Regions from separate parts of the Homo sapiens genome. Here region 1 is linked to region 2. Evidence: fine-mapped expression QTL. A gene starts in region 2. The other region holds a variant in brackets. All regions are shown on one strand. Distances are from middle to middle. Region 1 overlaps MORN5 (MORN repeat containing 5). Region 2 holds the start of LHX6 (LIM homeobox 6).

Region 1 (2,811 bases), 36 kb after region 2:
TCCCTATGCACCCCCTTCTCGGCATCCAGGTCTCAACTCAAATGTCACCTTCTCAATGACCCTAATCTAACCGCCTCCACTCACAGTCACCCCATCTTGTCTTCATTTTATTTTCTCCATAGCATAAGCCACTCCCTGCATATGTATTTGTTTACGTGCATGTTGTCTGTCTCCCTATCCAGACTGTAAGCTCCAGTGAGACCAGGAGCCCTGCCTGCTTGTTCACTATGATATCCCAGTGCTTAGGGGAGTGTCTGGCACATAGTAGGTTCTCAGTTGATAGCTTTTGAATTAATGAATGAATTGGCAAGCCCAATCCTGTGGCCAGCCATGTGGCCAGTGTTAGGGACAGGTGGGACTGAGACCAGCAGTGAGCGCTGCCAGGACCCAGGTGCACTTCAGGTTTAGGTCTATCTTTGGGGCCGAAAGATGTCTTTATTCCGGTTCTGAAGCTTTGGAAGTGACCTCGCTGCCACCTGCATGCCCTGCCCTCATAGGTCATTGGGATAACTGGGCTTTTTATAGAGAAGAAAAGAAACATATTGCAAGAGACACCCCAAATCTGACCATGGGCTACCCCAGTGAAAAACTTCCCTGAGAAGGCTCTCCACTCCTCAGCCTGGCCTTCAAGGTCGCCAGGTTCCCCTGCTTCCCAGGCCTGCTTCCCTCCCCGCTTCCCTCCCAGCTCCCCTCGCACTGTAAAATGCAGCCACCGGAGGAACTGCAGTAGTCCACGTGCATGCTCGCCAGTGCCTCTGTGCCTTTGCACTTGCTATTCCCAAGGGACCACCCTTCCTCCTTCAGGACCTGGTTTGGGTTCAGGGCCTCTCAGAACACAACAGAGACCCAAGGTACTTTCCATTTTGTAGTATTAGTGTATATAAAATTGAAAACAGGCCTAAGCAAGGTGCTAACAATTACAGTATAGTTTAAACATTTACATTTGACAAATTACTTTTTTTTCTTTTTTGAGACGGAGTCTCGCTCTGTCGCCAGGCTGGAGTGCAGTGGCGCAATCTTGGTTCACTGCAACCCCCGCCTCCCGGGTTCAAGCGATTCTCCTGCCTCAGTCTCCTGAGTAGCTGGGACTACAGGCATGCGCCACCACGCCCAGCTAATTTTTGTATTTTTAGTAGAGATGGGATTTCACCATGTTGGCCAGGATGTTCTCGATCTCTTGACCTCACGATCCACCCGCCTTGGCTTCCCACAGTGCTGGGATTATAGGTGTGAGCCACGGCGCCCGGCGGACAAATTGCTGCTTTTAACACAAACAACCAAATGTAATATGAGTGTATTATTCTAGGATTTCTTCCAAAAATGTATAAGTTCATAGTGTGCTGAGGCACTATGGTCAGGAAAGGGGGTGTGAATTTTGAGTTGTCTGATGAACAGGGTCACAATCCATACTTAAAGGCCCCATGAATGTGTGGGCTGGGCTTCATACTCTCTTGGCTGTCCCCTACCCCCACAGACCCTGCCCGGATGTTAGCCTTCCCTGAGCCGAAGTCACAGTGTTCGTTGTAGTCACCCCCTCCAGCCTGTACCATTTACTTTTGATGGTCAGGGCCCAGCACAGATCTAGCACTTAAAGTATTTCATAAGTAC[G/C]TGGTGAATAATGAATAAAGAAATGTAAATTTGGGGACATAAAAGCAACAGGTTTACCCTGTGGGGTTTTGACAAAGGGGGAGGAATTTCTTCCCCACCCTGGGCAAACAGAGCTTGTGAGAGGGCAAGGCAGGCACGCCAAGGGCAAGTCCAAGACCGCCAGCTGCTGGTTCCTTTTGTGATTTGGGGCAATAGATTGGGCAGCCCTACCACATGGAGAGGCTGGGTTGTGTGGGGTCATACCTGGGCACTAACCCCACTCAGGAAGCTCAAAGCCTGGCTGGCCTGGGACTTGCCTCTCAGTGAAGGCAGGGAGGAGCTGACCTGTACAGGGCACAGCTGTGCCGGGTCTGCTGAGCTGTGCCCAGGTCACCAGGTGACATTAGTGCAGCCTGCAGGTCAGTGCACAGCTGGGGGAAAAAGAGATCCTGAAAGTCTCAGAACAGCTGCAAGGAAATATCAGCTCTTCAGAGGATTCGCAGGGAGGGGGCAGTGTGGCATGATGGTTAAGAGCTTGGGCACTGGAATTCTGTCACTAGCCCACAGACCTTGAGCGAGTGGCCTCACACCTCCCTAGGTCTCATTTCCTCATCTACAAAGATGCCTGTCTTGAAGGCTTGCATGAGGACCAAGTGAGATCATTCCTAAAAAAGGTTAGCACAGCACTTGGGGCACAGGAAATGCCAAAAACCAAAAGAAACGCCAGAAGTTAACTTGTGAGGGTAGGACTTCAGGGCTCATGTGGCAACACAGCAAAGACTAGAAGGAGTTCTGGAGCCGAACAAGCCTGGATCCGATGCTGAGCCACCGACTCGCTGGGTGATTTTGGACACGTCACTCCCATCTCTGAGCCACCCTCCTCGTCTTTGTAGCAGGTTTCACCAGACTTTCTGCAGAGGGCAGAGTGAGGACTGACCAGGATGAACGGCCCTTGGTGGGCACCCAGGAATGGAAGCTACAATCACCATTGTGATAGGTCTTTCATTCCCAAAATGGATGCCTGTAAGGGAGCGTCCTTAAGGGACTCGCTCAGGACACTCCCAGGACTTCTGGTTCCCTGCCAGGATGGAGGGGGAGCCTGCGGGAGGAGGAGGTCTTCACACGAGGATCAGTGCCCTAGGATCAAGGGCCACAGCTCAGCTAATAATTTTTGTTCAAAGCCAGCAGGGCAAGCCAGGGCAGGCGAGCCCAGGGAAGGCAAGC
Region 2 (2,811 bases):
TGTGCAAACTGAGACTATAACTATTGGGAATCTATGGCTGCAGAAGTGTGTGTGATGTGTCTGCCTATAAATGCCTATCAATAGTTGTCTCACCATCTGTAAGGATGTAAGTACATATTTGAGGGTGCCTGAGTAGAGGACATAAGGTTATACATGGGTTTGGAGCTCTGTGAAAATCTGTGCCCTCTTGAGTATGGCTGTGTGTACAAATGGAAGAACAATTGTGTGTGGGGGGGTGTTTACATCTGTAAATGAGGGCAATTATGGAGGTGATGACATGTGTGATGTGGTGAGGGTAGGCTGTCATGGTGTCTGTAGGGCTGGATCTATGTCTGAGTGTGCTTATTTGTTTTTAGATGATGTATGTTTACATGTGTCTCTTTAGGCTCAGTTTGTGTGTGGAGAAGGGGGCTGAGACTCTAAGTGTCCACTTGTGTATGCTGCAGGGCGTTAGTGTGTGTAAGGCTCCATCTTTGGGTTTGAAGGTTCTGTGTCTGTGTGTCTGGGGGCAGTGTCTTCTGTCTAAATGCCTGGGCCTTCCTGCCTTCCCTACCATTCTCATTGTCAGTAGAACCCTAGAGAAGAAGGGATGGGCATTGGACTGTGTGGTTAAGCAAATCCTGAAGGGAAGGGGAATGTGCCAAGCAATCCCTTCCAAGAGAATTCAGGGAAACTACCCTCCCGTTTCACCTCAGTCCCTGGGAGCTGGTGCACTGTCTGGTTCTTATAGAGCAGAGGTATCTGTGCAGGTGTGTGAGAGTAAGTGTGGTGCCTCGTGCCCGTGTAAATGATGTGAACAGGTAATCACTTACATTAGTGTGTACACAAATGTACCAGGCATGGGATTGCATCAACACAGTGTAATAACGTGTGACCTCCTACGGAATCTATCTCCGCAGATGGTATGGCCATGGGTCCCTCCTGTACCTGTGAGTGGGGCAGTGTCTGAGGAAGATGGGTGCCCCTTGAGGGAGGAGCGGTAGTGAGAGCTGGGTGGATGTGTGCCCGCCGGTGCCTTTGTGTACTGGCGTGTCTCCGAGTCTCTCTGTCGGCAGCTCTGAGTTTCTGTGTGTCTCTGTGTCTGTGTGTGTGTCTCTCTCTCTGGGTCTCTGCCTCGTCGTGTGTGTCTTGCTCTCCCTTGGCGGGGAGGGGATTGGTCACGCATGACTCATCTTGAACCGAGCGGGGCTCCAGCGGCAGGGCGGCCGCCGTTGCAGCTGGAGGGGGAGGAGGACAAGGAGGAGGGAGAGGAGGAGGAGGACTACCAAGAGGGGGAGGAGGAGAAGAAGGAGGGGGCGGGGGCCTCTCCAAGTTTGTCGGGACCTTCTTCCGAGGCAGCGGCGGCAGCAGCCAGGGAGGCCGGGGCTGCGCGCGGGCCGGGGGCGGGGGCTGAGGCCGGGCCCGGGGCGGCGGGGCCGGCGCCTCGGCTCTCCTCCTGCTCCTGCAGCAGCCTCTGCTCCCACTGCGGCTGTGGTCCCCCTCGGCGCAGCTCTCCGCGCTGCGCGCCCGCTGAGCCCGAGGTTCCCCGGCCCATGTACTGGAAGCATGAGAACGCCGCCCCGGCGTTGCCCGAGGGCTGCCGGCTGCCGGCCGAGGGCGGCCCCGCCACCGACCAGGTGAGCCGGCGAACGACTGGGTGAGCGGCCCGGGCCGGGGTCGGGCAGGGTCCGGGACCCAGCCGGGCCGAGCAGGGTGGCGGGCGGTTGCAGGAAGGAGGGGTACGAGGGTGCGCCTGTGAGTGTGTGCTTGTGAGTGTGGGAGCGCGCGCGCGAGCGGGGGGGGGGGGTCGCGGAAAGCGGGAACACATTATGCAAATGTTGGAGGAATTTCTCAAAAAGCGATTTAGTAAAGACACAGGCGAATCAAGAGGAGGCGAGGCCGGTATTGTCCGTCTGAATAGGCGCTGATAGCGCCGATGCGCCGGGGGTTGTGCCGGCGCAGCGCTGAGAATCCCGACGCGGGGCCGGTACCCGGCGCGCCGAGGGGCTGGAGGGTGCTTTTTCCTCCCCTTGAGCGCCTCTCTTTTCTCTTTTTGGTCCCGTTTCGCCCCGATCTCGCTCTCTTTTTGCTCCGGGTTTCCCTCCGACTGGCCCTCGAAAGGCGCCTGAATCCGTGTCAATATAGCTGCTTCAATTTCGCCGCGCGTGTCAGGCGGGCGGGCGGGCGGGTGCTCACCGCGCTCGGGGTTTTCTTTTCTTCAACCACCCTCCGCCCCTCACCCATCTCTTTTTTATTTTCTTTCTTTCTCTCTTTTCTCCTTTTTGCATTTTGTGCCGAGAGGAGAAGGGAGCGAGGAAGGGGAGTGGGGTGGGGGGGCGGGTGGAGAGAGAAAAAATTCGATTTTTAATTACTACCATTAAAAAATCAAATTTGCAATTCTTTGGGCGGCCTGATGGATCTCACTGATTGACAGTTGGAATTGACACTCTGGCTACCTCTTATCTTGGGCATTCACGACAATTTCTAATTGCAGGTAGTTTGTGTGTGTGTGCGCGTGTTTTTCTTCCCCCCTCAGAGGCTTGGATTGCAAGGGAACTAAGCGATTACTTCAAGAGCCACGGGTTAAGTGCAGGGAGAGGGGGAGAGAGAGGGAAAAAATCCAATCCAAATTCAAATTGCTTCATTAGAGAGACACCGCTTTTGTGGGGAAGGGCTTTAAATGCCCACTACAAAGTTAGGACTCATTGTTCGGCGCCGGTTTATATAACAGGCGCGGGGAGGCGCTGGGCTCAGGCTGTGCGGAGCCAGTTCAGCAGCCGCCGCCGCCTGCGTTCCCTCCCCCCCTCCCCCAGGTGATGGCCCAGCCAGGGT

What was found. PIP is the estimated chance that this variant, and not a neighbour inherited with it, causes the effect. A credible set is the group of variants that fine-mapping cannot tell apart.
Region 1: its variant is the best candidate, but not a certain one, in a credible set for the expression of LHX6 in nasal epithelium (TOPMed, PIP 0.58).

What each region holds. Positions count from the first base shown.
Region 1 is chr9:122,191,743-122,194,553 of GRCh38, reverse strand. All of the region lies in intron 4 of MORN5 (MORN repeat containing 5), which reads right to left. Among named protein-coding and RNA genes, the nearest start is that of MORN5, 33 kb to the right of the region's middle. The variant G/C (reference allele first, on the strand shown) is at 1,609.
Region 2 is chr9:122,227,462-122,230,272 of GRCh38, reverse strand. LHX6 (LIM homeobox 6) reads left to right here and starts at 1,316. Exons shown (of 10, transcript NM_014368.5): 1 at 1,316-1,616; 2 at 2,793-2,811. The coding sequence starts at 1,533.